Linked DNA regions of Homo sapiens. The protein of the gene in region 1 purifies or fractionates together with the protein of each later gene. This does not show direct contact. Each region holds a gene or a part of one and is shown on either strand. Other genes may lie near its edges.

The links. The genes of interacting proteins can lie anywhere in the genome.
Region 2: the proteins of NFIL3 (region 1) and STK40 purify together in Homo sapiens (affinity purification with mass spectrometry; 2 studies listed by BioGRID and IntAct, with this or other methods). This does not show direct contact.

What each region holds. Positions count from the first base shown.
Region 1 is NC_000009.12:91,420,824-91,427,968, forward strand, and holds the start of NFIL3 (nuclear factor interleukin-3-regulated protein), read right to left. Parts: upstream 3,010-7,145; 5' UTR 2,817-3,009; intron 1,606-2,816; exon of another isoform or gene 1,177-1,605; intron 882-1,176; exon of another isoform or gene 799-881; intron 1-798.
Region 2 is NC_000001.11:36,375,918-36,382,942, reverse strand, and holds part of STK40 (serine/threonine-protein kinase 40), read left to right. Parts: intron 1-7,025. UniProt on the Homo sapiens protein: May be a negative regulator of NF-kappa-B and p53-mediated gene transcription.

The DNA of each region.
Region 1 (7,145 bases):
CTATGTGGGCGTTTAGATTTTATTTTGAACTCTGGAGATCAGTGTTCTCTCTCCTCTAGCCTTTGACCACATAAATTAAAGGTTAAAAAAAATCGGCTCAACTCAACTGGCCAAAGTCAAGCTGAGGCCTTCCTTTTAATCACTATCAATACTGGAGCGCCTCCACCCCCAATTTCTGTGGCCGGTGGACGTTTGGAGGTTTTTCTTAAGGTCTTTTTCACTTCAAGAATGGAGACGCGCTTGGTTCCGAAATACAATGAAGACTCTTGGAACAAAGGTGTCTGCAGGTTTCTGAACCTCACCGCAGAACAGGCGCGGAGTCAGGCCCCTGGATTTGCCCTGTTGGAAGGAGGGCCGCGGAGACGCAGGCGCTCCGGGTCGCCCGCGCTGCCCCTGTCTGCCCCGTGCGGGAGCCGGGGTCCCTGGCTCCCTGGCTCCCTGGCTCCCGCGGCCCGGGCGAACCCAGAGCGCACCCGTACGCCGGCCCCGGCCGGTCCCTAGCGCCCGGGCTCCACGGGCCGCGCCCCCACGCGGCGCCTCCCAGAGACCCTCCTCCCTCCGGGTGGGCGGCGCAGCGGGGCCTCGGCGCCGCGAGGACCCCCCGCGCCAGAACAAAGGAATGTGGGGAGGGGGCAGGGAGGAGCTCAGGCCACTGAGCAGCCCCAGTATAACTGCCGTTCGGAGGCGCTTCTCGGTCCCGACCCGAGGTCCCCGCCCGCCACTACCAGACCCGCCCCCAGCCCCGGATTCTCGCAGACCCCACCGGCCCGCAGGAGGGAGCGGCGCACTGGGGGCCGCACGGACTCGCCATTGGAGATCGCGATCGGAAGGTGGCGCCACGCGGCCCCTACAGGCCTGGGACTCCCACCCGAGCTCGCAAAGTAGGTCGGGGTCTGAAGCTGGGGGCCTAGAGCAACTAGCTTCTTGGAAAGCGACTGCAATTATTTGGGGTAATATACTCTGTTCCAGAGACGTCCACCCCCCACCTCCCACAAAAAAAAACCCTGCACTTAATTTAAATGTTACGTTATATATACATCCCATCATATACATATATTCACACATAATCACTATGTAACAGTCCAGGAAGAAATTTAATATTTGGGTAAATTACATATTCACACATCTTCACATAAGTAAAACCAGGGTATCCAGACAAAAAAACAATCTACTAACCTATATCTGTTTCCCATAGGTCATATCTGGTCTGGGGGTAAATAAATACTTCTGACCTCACTTACTGTTGTTATTTACAAAAGCCAAGAACAGAAGATGACACTTGGCCATTCCCTGCTGTTCTCAGAGAACAGCAGTTTCCTAAAGTGTCCTTTAAAAACATAAATGGGAGCCAGCATCCAGCAAATCACCGGGCGCTGCGAAATGCCTTCCTAAAAATACAATCTTATCAAAGGTCTCCGAAGGCGTGGAGTTAAAACTACAGCAAATGGCCTTGAACTTGTATTTGCACACAGCCCTGGAGAAAACACCAGAAATAGCACTGCGAGGCCACAATTGTTAAAATGTGATAGGGCTAAATTTAGAAGAACGTGCGTTTCATTTAGGGCAAAAGACACACATTCGGCAGCATGAGCAAACTCCATGCTTACCCGGTTGTCTACTTTCCTGTTTAAAATATCCTTAAGGAAAAAAAAAAAACTGTTATAGTGACATTCTTAAAGGCTGAGACTGTCCTACTTTCTTTGTAGCAAGATTATAAAATCACGTAATTAGCTCCCTCTCTCTATGCTCACTGCCAGCAAATTCGGCAGTTACATAATGCAACATTTCCAGGAAACTATTATGTGATTTGTCTTGTCGTGTCTGAAAAAGCAATGACAATAAGGTGAGAAAAAGGGCTGATCGAATGGAATGCATTAAAATTAGGAAGGTGGGGAGGTAAACGTCACAATGGTTCGTCCCAGATTTAAAAATAACAGCTGAGAACATTGAAAGGGCGAACCCCAGTAGTACCCAAGATCAGAATTCAATGCGAGCAATTCTTGCTTTTAGGTTTTGTAGTATCGTTTTAAAACCTGTTTATTTGGGACGTAATATAGACGTAAATAACGATCTAATATCCAACGCTGCGCCTCAATTACCAAATCATTGCACACATACGCGCATATTCCCACATCAGCCCGCAATTCTTGCCAACATTTCACCGTGGGCAGATTATGCAATGTATGAAAGGACAAATCCCACAACCTTCCCGAGGGCTTGTAAAACACGCTGACGACAAACAGGGTGGAAAACGTCTGTGCAGACACAGCCCCTGACACAAACAAACGCCGCGCAGGCATTCTCCGAATGCCGTCACCGTTCACGCTACCAACCCTTTTTCTCACCAAGCAAATTAAGACTATTCCCCATTCCTCAACCCCCCATTCCTCTCCCCCCTACGCCGCCAGCCCCAGAGAAGGAACGAGAAAGAAAGACACTAGAGAGGAAAGAGCATCTTCCCGCTCGGAGAGGGCTCAGCCTGCCTGGCGCTCTTCTTTACCAAAACATCAATTTTCCTGAAATCAGGAGACATTATGCAACAGCAGCGGGGGGAGAGCGCAAACCAGCCAGGACTACGTGCCGGCGCGAAGGCGCTGCAATCAAAGCAGCCACCTTAAGGTGGCGAGTCCCATCCTGACAAGGCAGCAAAAGTTTATGTAATGAATGCCCCGCGCGCACTCGCCGCCGCTGGCGAGCCCAGCTTACAGCCCGACCCCGCACACAGCGCGGCCCGCACCCCGCGCCCGCCCGCCCGCCCGCAGCGCGCCCTGGGAGCGGTCGCCGGGCCCCCGGCCGGCGGTGGGCGGAGCGCTTACCGTGTTCCTGCTCTCGGGCCGGCGAGGAGAAAGAAAGGGGCGGCCGGGAGTCGGGCCGCCGGCGCTCGGGGCTCGGGCCGGGCCGGGCCTCCGGGGCCGCGGCGGGAGGCGGGCGGCGGCGAGGGCGCGGCGCGGGAGGCGGGCGGGCGCGCCGGGTCCGCGGGCGCCGTGGCCGCGCGGAGAGATGTGTGTTAGTAGGTCAGTTCCGAGCGCCGCGCTACGTCGCCGCCCGCCAGCCCCGCGTGACTGGCGGCCGCGGCCCCAATCGCCGCGCCCGCACCCGCCCCCGGCCCGCCGCCAATGGCCGCGGCCGGCAGGGGCGGGCCGGGGCGGGCACTCCGCGGCCCCGCCCCGCCTCCCCGCCCTCAGCTCCCCCTCCGCGGCGGCGCCACTACCAGCTCGCGTCCCTCCCCGGCCAGGGCCACCGCCGTCCGAGCGCCCGCGAGGGCTGGCGCCCCATTCCCGGCGCAACGAGTGTTGCGCAACGGCCCACGCGGCCGACACGACCGGAGCGAGCCTGCGGAGGAGCCCGGGAGCCCCCCGTCCCACCGCCCCGTCCGCTCTTGGCTCCCTTCACCCTCCCGGTCGCCGCGGTGGCTCTGCGCTCCCCGCGACCCTCACTTGCTCGCAGAGGCGCTTTTTGTCTTCCTGAGAGCCGCAGCCTGCTGGGCTACCTGTTGCCGACTGAGCACTGCGGGTTGCGGCTACCCGGGCGTGGCCCGGACCTCGGCCTCCCCTTCCCCGCACACTCCCGAGAGGAGCCCTCTACCTTGGGGTGGGCAGGAGGGAAGGCGGGGGGTGGCGGCTGGCAAGCTGCCAACACTCGGGGCGCGCTGCGGCGGGGAAGGGGTTGGCGCGGCCGGGCAGCTGCGCAGGGCTGCGCGGCGGAGGCAGCGATTAAAATGTCCCGGCGCCTCTCCCGAGAGCCGCGACGGCCCGGAGCCGGGAGGGAAAGCTCCACGCACAAACACCGCCCCCTGCACAATTAGGGCGAAGATGACGGCTGCAAAGTTGTTGCGTAACACGACTGGGAAACGAGGCTCGCTGAGGTCCATCTACCCACCCCCGCCACGCGGGTGCGGCGTTCCTCGGAGGATGTGAAGGTCCGCGCTCGGGTGCCCCCGCTGGGACGCCCACTGTCGTTTGGTGCTGGGGCTTGAGACGACCGCGCGGGATCTCTTCCTGTGATTTTGAGCTGATAGCTGCTTAGTGTTATTTCTGCGTCTAACTGGATACGGTAGTCTTCTCTCCCAAATTCCCGGGCTACGGAAGAGACGTAAAAAAATGGAAAAAAGAGCACCTAGCCGCGACTTCTTAAGTCGTCGCGCTAGACTGTCAAGGCACGTGGCACACTCCCTGCGTTTACCGATACACGGATAGTGGTCAGTGCTGGCCTTGGCGAAGGGAGCCATGTTCCCGACAGTGACTCACAGGCTTGCCCAAATACGGAGTGTGGCAGGTGGGCAGGACCTCCACCAGCCAGCTCCCTCCTGGTCTCCTTGAACTACGTGGGGGCTGGGCCGAGTGCCTCCACGACTTTCCACTTCTTTTTGCTCCTTTCGTTTTTAAAAAGCAAAAACCAAAGTAAAGAGAAGAGCAGAGTGAACACCCAGGTACCATCCCTAGTGTCTGCCATGAGCAGCAGATCTATCTACTCGCCAAGATTGTCTTTTCTACCTTTCCCCTTCTTGCACAGTTAATATCATAATAACGCAAGTCATATTTAAAAAATTTTTATCACCTATCAGTTGAGTTTTTGGAAAGCCTTCCAGGGCAGCGTTGTGGTTTTGAACGCACTCTTGTTCGTGATTTATCTGGTAGTACAGCTCTGCTGACAAGGCTCTGAAAACTCAGACGTACAATATGGGCTTAGCGTGTTCCCCGACACCATCTTCCCGGTGCTGACTAATGCAAGAACCACATCCCCTCCACTACACATTTTCCAAACTTGACTACCTTCATGAGAACAAATCCTGATTTTAGTTTATAATTTCCACTTTTCTCATACATATATAATAATTCAAGATGTGGTCTTACTATGTTGTCCAGGTTGGCCTGGAACTCCTGGGCTCAAAGGATCCTCCGGCCACAGCCTCCCTGGTAGTGGAATTACAGGCGCATGCCACTGTGCCTGGCCACTTTTCTCAAATTTACTGATAGTTTCCTTTTTGCCCAAACCTTACAATGCTTATTTGTAGCTTTGAGAACCTCTCTTAGATGAAATCAAAATCATATCCATATTAGTTGCCTTTTTGGGGTCAGAAATGCAGCTATTGTCTAGAAATCCAGGGCTGTCCTGCATAATCTACCCTCCCCTTCACGTGTTCTGACCTTGTTCTGCATTTTGAATAATTTCATGGAATTTCAAAGCCGTTGTAGTAAATGTCTTTCTTTAAAGACAACTCGACCTTCAAGACAGGTAAAGAACGTGCCTGGAGCCACCCCAGGCAGTGATGCTGGAGGAGTTCTCTCAACCTGGAAACTTATTCTTTATGCTGAATTTTGAAATCGAATGCTCCTATATTTACTTGGAGTATTTTAGATTGTGTATGTATTATATCTGTGCATCATTCATTGTTACCATCTAACTTGGAAATCAGAGGAAGTGTGAAAGGTATCTGAGATACCAGCTTAGAAAACAACTCTTTAGCTCCTCCTGGTGATTAGGACACCACTAAACAACAGGATGAAGGATCTGTCCCCAGGGCCGAAGTGATGATGTATCTAATATTATATCCTAGAACATTCACAGAGTAGGTAAGTATTTGCAGATTAACTCGAGTAAATGGAGCATAAAAACCTAAGATATTTGAAACAAATTAACCAGGGTGGGGAGGCTTCTAGGAAGACATCAGCATGTGCCTGATGGTGGAGCTGGGCTGTAAGGTTCTCAGGAGGAGGAGGAAGGGGTTCTTGCTCTCAGCAACCTCTCAGTGCTAGGGGTGGATTGAGGGCAGGGGCAAGGGAGGAGGTGCCTGGACAGGGATGAGAACTACCAGCAGAAGACAATCAACCACATTCTAATTCATTTTATTATACTGCCAACATGGTTTCTGACTAAGCAAATATAAGAGCTATAGCTTGAGAACAGAATGACTAAAACAGTGACTTCTCCTTACTAAAATGGGAATTAATAGGAATTTGTAATTTAGTAACAACTTAATTTAATATAGTAATAATTTTTCTACAGCTGCAGAATGTCTTGAGCTGGAACATCCCCAAGAGGCCATATATATATCCCAGGGATTTTACAGTGGACCTCACTAGGCCGGAGTAACTGTAAAGTCAGATGGATAATGAGAATTCAGGACGTTAGCCACACGTGGACTGTGGCAAAAAGAAAGTGACCCACTGAAGAAGACTGTTTTTCAGCTCTCTCATCAATTGCTGTTTCCAGGAGCCCACAGCTCCAATTACTCAAAAGAACGTTGACTTTTTTTTTTTTGGTAAAATATCCTGATTTTCAGGTTAGGCAAGCAATTCATTAAAAAATAAAAGACTGCACAGCCCACAGCTCCAATTATTCAAAAGAAAGTTGACTTTCTTTTTTTTGGTAAAATATCCTGATTTTCAGTTTAGGCAAGCAATTCATTAAAAAATAAAAGACTGCAGGACTTACCTACCCAGAGGCTGGACAGTCTGAGTCCTCTGAGTTCTACAGAGATGTCCTGGGAACAGGGGGTGGAGACGGGGGACTCAGTGGCTAAAAAGCAGGCTGCCTACCTGGCAACCAAATTGGGCAGCTCTACCCTATCTGTTTTGTGCATTGGACTTATGGATTTCTTTGTAGAAAAAACTTCGATAACTAAAAGCCCTTTGGTGACCTCCTGTCTGGTCTGGTGGCCGGCAGCCTGCATCAGGGCTCCTGTGTGCCAGGACCATTTTCTTTCCACTGTAGTATGTTTATGGACCACCTTGTGTCTTTTTATTAAACTCCAGGAACAGAAGTTCAGTTTCTGGGAATCCATAGCATACCGTTTTTGTTGTTGTTGTTGTTGTTGTTGTTGTTTTTGTTTTTGAGACAGGGTCTTGCTCTCTTGCCCACACTGGAGGGCAGTGGAGTGATCACGGCTCACTGCAGCCTTGACCCCCCCAGGCTCAAGCAAACCTCCAACCTCAGCCTTCCAAGTAGCTGGGATTACAGGTGCACACTACCATGCCTGGCTAATTTTTTAATTTTTTTTTTGTTAGAGTCAGTGTCTCTCTATGTTGCCCAGGCTGGTCTCAAACTCCTGGGCTCAAGCAATCCTCCCACCTTGGCCTCCCAAAGTGCTGGAATTACAGGTGTGAGTCACAGCACCAGACCTGTTTTGTTTTCAAGTGGAGGCT
Region 2 (7,025 bases), on another chromosome or scaffold:
GCCATCAGACAGATCTGTGTTCTACTTCTATCCCTGCTGGTCACTAGGGATTACTTATTCTCTCCACCACAGCTTTCTCATCTGTAAAATGGGGACAATAAGAGTACCTTCGTAATAGGGCAGTTGTGAGGAGTAAGTAAGATGTTACAGGATGAGTACTTAACAGACACTGAGTAGTAAATGTTAGCTCTTATTACAGGCTACAGGAAAGAACTTTTAGGAATTAGTTGCAGCAATTCATGGCAACTAGAACTATGTCCCATTGAGCTGTCAGAAGTGTCCTGAGGGATCACAAGATCACAGAGTTTTATTTTATTCTTTCTGAAAAGAAAATCTAAGGGGAGTTTACCCAGTCTGTATGGGAGCCATGCAGATGATTCAGTTTGGCTCTTTAAAAGAACTATTTTTAAAAATAGAAGTAGGACTGCTGAGAAAAAAATAGTACTTTAAAGTATACATGGGTTGGCCAGGCGCGGTGGCTAACGCCTGTAATCCCTGCACTTTGGGAGGCCGAGATGGGCAGATCGCTTGAGCCTAGGAGTTCAAGACCAGTCTGGGCAACATGGCGAAACCCGTCTCTACAAAAAATACAAAAATTAGCTGGGCATGGTCATACGCACCTGTAGTCCCAGCTACTAGGGAGGCTGAGGTGGAAGGATCTCTTGAGCCCAGGAGATCAAGGGTGCAGTGAGCCGAGATTGCACCACTGCATTCCAGTTTAGGTGACACAGTGAGACCCTGTCTCAAAAAAAAAAAAGTATACATGGGAGTAAATGTATTTAGAATTTCTTCTCTGTGTGTCCCTGCTAGCAACCCTAGTCTGGTACCTGAATAAGCAGCATCAAGAGGCATCACACACACTGATGAGTGTGGTAGCTCAAAATACAGAGCCCTGATTCCACATACATGAGCTCCCATGTGTGGCTGGGGCTCTGCTGGGTCCTGGGGGCAGGAGGAGGATGGAGAGGCAGGCCCTACCATGGAGGAGGTTGTGATCTAGGGGCAGGCTCCTAACCAGTTAACATGTGCACAGTTTGGCAAGTCTCTCACAGAAGTCTATAGCATGTGGGGGAACCCAGTGGAAGAAGTGATCGAGCTCTAGGATGAGGAGGAGACTGGGGAGAACTTCAGAGAGCCCTTAGAACTTGAACTGGGACTGGGCACAGCAGCTCACACCTGTAATCCCAACACTTTGGGAGGCCGAGGCAGGAGGATCGCTTGAGCCCAGAAATTGAAGACCAGCCTGGCCAACATAGTGGGACCCCATCTCTACAAAAATTAAAAAAGAAAAAAATTAGTTAAGCGTGGTGGCATGTACCTGTAGTTCCAGCTACTTGGAAGGCTGAAGTGGGAGGATCACTTGAACCTGGGAGTTCCCAACTCCCAGTAAGCTGTAATCACACCACTGCACTCGAGCCTGGACAACAGAGTGAGACCCTGTCTCAAAAAAAGAACTTGAATTGGATCGTGAAGAATGAATAGAGTTTTCTGGGGGTCTATGAAGCCCTCCAGGCAGGGGGAGCAGCCTGGCACAAGCACGGATATGTGGTAATTTGTGTGGCACTTTAGGAACCACAGGAGTTCTAGCCCAGAGTGTGAAGGGACTGACTGCAGGATGTGCCTGAGAGGTAGGCAGGCACTAGGGCGCAGATGCTTGAATTTTGTATTCTGTTGGTGATGGATGCCTTGCATTAAGTGGAGGAAACATACCATTAGACCTGCATCTGCTTTGGAGGATGGAGTGGGTTGGGGAGAGGTTGGAGTCCCCATAGGAGGCTGTTGCAGTAATCCCAGCAAGGGCTGAGAGGGGCTTGGATCAGGGCAGAGGCAATAGGGTTGAGAAGAAGAGCAGAGATGAGCTGTTTGGGGGGAAATCAACTGGACTCTGGGAGTGTTTGGAAGTGATGCCAGAGGGAGGAGGAATGGTGACAGGTAACCTTGAGGTCCTTGGTTTGGGTGACAGAGTGAATGATAGTGCAGAGATAGGGATGGCTCAAGGAGAAGATAATGGCCAGTGAAATCTGCCAGCTTCGTTCAGTAAACCCTGGGCACACCCTCTCGGGAGAGGATCAGTTGGAAGGTCTTGTAGACCCCTGTCTGGACTTGGGCCAGGCTTCCCTTTGCTTTCGCCTGAATCAGCACCTGGGAGAAGGGCAGCTTTCCTTCCTTCACCTTTCCTCTGCCCAGATTTAACCAGGGAGGTGAACCTCTTCATGTTTCACATCTATAAAGCGATAAATCTTCAGCCTTCCAATAGCCCTAAGAGCAACCCTTCCCTCTGGCAATATCCACCCCGATTCAGCATACTACAGCCCACTGATGGGGTCCTGAACAGCAGAGACCCTCAGGGGAGAGAGGCTTTCTCAGTGCCCCCTGGAGATCTTATCTAGAGAGAGGTCTGGAAATTGGATTTGCTGCCTGAAGCTGGCTCAGCAGATTCAGTCCTTCTTCTCAGGAAGGACTGATATCTGCCAGAGGCCACCCAGGACTTGCTCAGAACCTTCAGGGAAGGGAGAGAAAGCTGCCCAGTGTCCTTGACCCTTGAAGTTCTAAGGGAGCCAGAAGCTGTCCCTCAGCTGGATTGGACTATAGTGAGGGGTGTGCTGGTGGGCGGGCCTTCAAACAGGCCCTTTGGAATTTGGGAGATTTTTTTACATGATTTGTCCTTGGGTTTGTGGTGTAAAGAAAGTAAACGAGAAAATGATCTGAAACAAGAGCACTTCTTTCTCCTCCACCTGCTCAGGTGAGACTCTGACCTCGAAGGTAGTCGAGGGCCCACAGCAGCCCCCGCATATCCTCCCAGGCTCTGTAATCAAGATCCTAGAGGGGAAAGGATGCAATTGCTTGCTGTGATTTACTTACTATCTTAGAGATAGTTCCACTTTGGCACATGCAGGTCTGGGTCATTTGTGGCTATGATGTGTCCCACTGTGAGTGTAATTTATTCAACAAGCTCTCTGCTAACAAACACTTGGGTTATTTTCTGCATTCTACTCTCTAAACACTTCTGCTGAAGTGACTTTCTTCATACATATGATTTTGCCCACCTTAGGTATCATCTGCAGGATAAATTTCTAGAAGTGAATTGCTGCCTCAAAGACTATCCTTTATTATTATTATTGTTAAAGAATTTCTAGGTCTCCTTTTAATAAATTGGGGCAGCCTTATTTTTCCCCCAGCAAGTGAATCTGTTCTTTTGGGTTGAGGTCGTACGTCCTGAGGGGAACACAGGTGTTCCCACTCCCTAAAGAGGCTACAACCCAGGCCGGGCGCGGTGGCTCACACCTGTAATCCCAGCACTTTAGGAGGCCGAGGCAGGCAGATCACGAGGTCAGGAGATCAAGACCATCCTGGCTAACACGGTAAAACCCTGTATCTACTAAAAATACAAAAAATTAGCCGGACGTGGTGGTGGGCACCTGTAGTCCCAGCTACTCGGGAGGCTGAGGCAGGGAATGGCGTGAACCCAGGAGGCGGAGCTTGCAGTGACTGCCCTCCAGCCTGGGTGAGAGAGCGAGACTCCGTTTCAAAAAAAAAAAAAAAAGAGGCTACAACCCAACGGTGTTCATTCTCTCCTGGCCATGACAGTCAGTCTTGGGTGTGAGTTCAGGCTCCCCAGAACTTAGCAGTCTACAGGCCTGACGGTTTCAAAGGAACTCTAGTTGTTGGAAAGCACCAGAGGTAGAAAAACTGAGAAGGGGTCTTGGCATGCAGAATAAAGCTGTCCCCTCTAAATATGTTTACACACTGCCACCTACTTGGCAAAAGAGATAGAAGATCTTCAGCCTTTAGGAAGTCTGGATGCAAGGGTCCAGAAGGAAGAGAGAGTGGACTGGTCATTGTAGTGGGAATTGGCAAGAGCAGGACTGATGTGCTTGTCATTTCTCTCTGGGGCAGAGCTGATGTGAGGTGTGTTGAGGGGACAGCAGTGCTTCTAGGGAGAAGCTCGGTTCAGCGCCTTGGGGACCTTGGGCCTGGTGTAGCCCAGCATTCCGTGGGGCTTTTGGAATCCTGTTGCTGGCATCTGCCAACCCTGGGGAGCAAGAGTCCTGCTACTTTTTGCAATAAGTATGGCGCTTCCAGCATTACTGAGTTTGGGGTAAGTTTCATAGTGTGTGTTCTTTTCTGACTCCTGGAGTGGTCCCTTCTGAAAAAACAGGAAGGAAACCAGCAAAAAAAGGAGGCCCGGCTGGCACGGTGGCTCACGCCTGTAATCTCAACACTTCGGGAGGCCGAGGCGGGCAGATCACGAGTTCAGGAGATCGAGACCATCCTGGCCAACATGGTGAAACCACATCTCTACTAAAATACAAAAAATTAGCCAGGCGTGGTGGCGCACGGCTGTAGTCCCAGCTACTCAGGAGGCTGAGGCAGGAGAATCGCTTGAACCCAGGAGGCGGAGGTTGCAGTGAGCCAAGATCGTGTCACTGCACTCCAGCCTGGTGACAGAGCAAGACTCCGTCTCAAAAAAAAAAGAAAAAAAGCCCCACCACCTCCCAGGTCCTTTGTAATACTGCAATACGTTATTGAATCTAAGGAAGTAAGGGTTGTCTCTTATTTTACAGAGAACACTCAGGCTCAGAGCGGGGTAAAAAGACTGTCTACTATTACACAGCCAGTAAGGGCAGAGCTGGGATTTCCAACTCACATTTGTGTGACTCTAAAGCCCATGTTCCCTTCCTCCATCCTGGCTAGGCTCTGGTCCCAGGGAGTCCAGCCCACATAGAATCTTGGACTCATAGAGCCAGCCCCAAAGCTGAACCAGTCCCTTTTTTTGCCTGAAAAATGGAAACTGCCACTGCCTTGAGACAGGTCCCTCCCTGACCTGCCCTATGGGTAGTGGGCAAGGAGACTTGCAACCATGCAGTTAAGGGCCTAGGCTCAGATCAGATGTGGCTTCAGAACCTGAAGTGAGTGACCTTGAACAAGTCACTTCCTGTCTCCAACCCCAGCTTCCTCCTCTGTAAAATGGGCATAACAATTCTTGCCCTTAAGGTAGTCATGAGACACAGGGCTTTATAGCCTCTACCACGTTCAGCCTAGTGCATGGCAGGCAGGCAGGACCCAGGGGCCAGCTCCAGCAAGGCCCAGGTGAGCTCTTGGCAGTGAACCTGTGAGTGTACCAAAAGAGGCATCCTGAGCCAGTTTTCAGCCCTTATGGATGCCAGGGGGCAGGCAGGAAGTTCCTTATAGGCATGTTTGCAGCCTATCTGGAGAGCTGCAGGGGTGTTGTCTTTGTCCTTCTGCCTCTCACTCTTTTGCTGCACCATTGCATTGGCACACAAGCTCACACATCCAGGGCACTTATGCTTACACCTCTTCCCAGGCCATACTCTCTCAAGTCTGCCTTCTCTGAGGCTCAGCCTCCCCTGATTCCACTACTACTTTTTTTTTTTTTTTTTTTTTTTTTGAGACGGAGTCTCACTCTGTTGCCCAGGCTGGAGTGCAATGGCATGGTCTTGGCTCACTGCAACCTCCGCCTCCCAGGTTCAAGCAATTCTCCTGCCTCAGCCTCCCGAGTAGCTGGGACTACAGGCGAGTGCCACCACACCCGGCTAATTTTTGTATTTTTAGTAGAGATGGGGTTTTACCATGTTGGCCAGGCTGGTCTTGAACTCCTGACCTCATGATATGCCACCTCAGCCTCCCAAAGTGCTGGGATTACAGGCGTGAGCCACCACGCCTGGCTCCACTACTACTCTTAATAATTCTAATGGGTTCAGAAAATCTTTAGATTTTAAAAAAGTATTGTTAGTTTAATAGTTTATGGTACAATAGTTAAATAATATGGGAGAATATAAAATAAAGCTCTCCCTCCCCTCCTTGGGCCCTTAGTTCTATTGACTGGAGGTGTCCACTTAAATTTCTTCTAGGCTGGGCACGGTGGCTCATGCCAGTAATCCCAGCACTTTGGGAGGCCGAGGCGAGTGGATCATGAGGTTAGGAGTTCAAGACCAGCCTAGCCAAGATGGTGAAACCCCGTCTCTACTAAAAATACAAAAAGCCAGGTGTGGTGGTGAGCACCTATAATCCCAGCTACTCGGGAGGCTGAGGCAGAGTATTGCTTGAACCGGGGAGGTGATAGTTACAATGAGCCGAGATTGTACCACTGCACTCCATCTCAAAAAAAAAAAAAAAAATTTCTTCTAGAAGTTGCCTATGCGTATTCAAAAGTGTGTATAATCTTTTTTAACCCAAGTAGGATTATGTTGTACATATATTCCTGCAGTGTGCTTATTTTGGTAACATAGACATCTTTATCAGCAGGTGTGGACCTAGTCGGAAAGGCTGCATAGTATCCATTGTCTAGCTGAACATAATTAGTTAACCAGTCCTCTCTGGATGGCCATTTAGATAGTTTCCTGCCTTGGGGGCATGTGTGTGTGTGTGTTGATTTTTATGGTTTTGTTTTTTGCTGCTACACGTGGCTCTATAGGGACTTTTGTTGAGCACATTATCTTTGTGAACCTGTGTGAGTATATCTGCAGGATCCATCCCCGGAACTGGCATTGCTGGGCCCAAGGCAGGTACATTTTCTTTTTCTTTGTTGGCTATGGTTTCACACCTTTTTTCTGCATACCTTCTGGGCTTGTGCAGAGCCTGGGAGGCCTGAGGTGGACCAGACCCTTCTCGAGACCTACATATAAGCAGACAGGTAATGAACACGCCCTCAATGCATGGACATAGTCTTTCACTGGTGGCTGCTGGCCCTCGTGATCTGCCGTGTCCAGCTCTTGGTGATTCAGAGCAGGTGAAGCCAACAGAGGGGCACTCTGAAGGGATCGCCTGCTCTTGGCTTTTCTAATCATACCAGGCAGCCTGTTGCCCCTCTGAGCAGCCATAGCCCTCAACATTCAGTCAAACTTCAGAAAGTGAATTGTATTGCTCGCTGTCAAAGTCGTGAATTTTTTTTTTTTTTTGAGATGGAGTTTTGCTCTTGTTGCCCAGGCTGGAGTGCAATGGCGCGATCTCAGCGCACTGCAGCCTACGCCTCTGGGGTTCAAATGATTCTCCTGCCTCAGCCT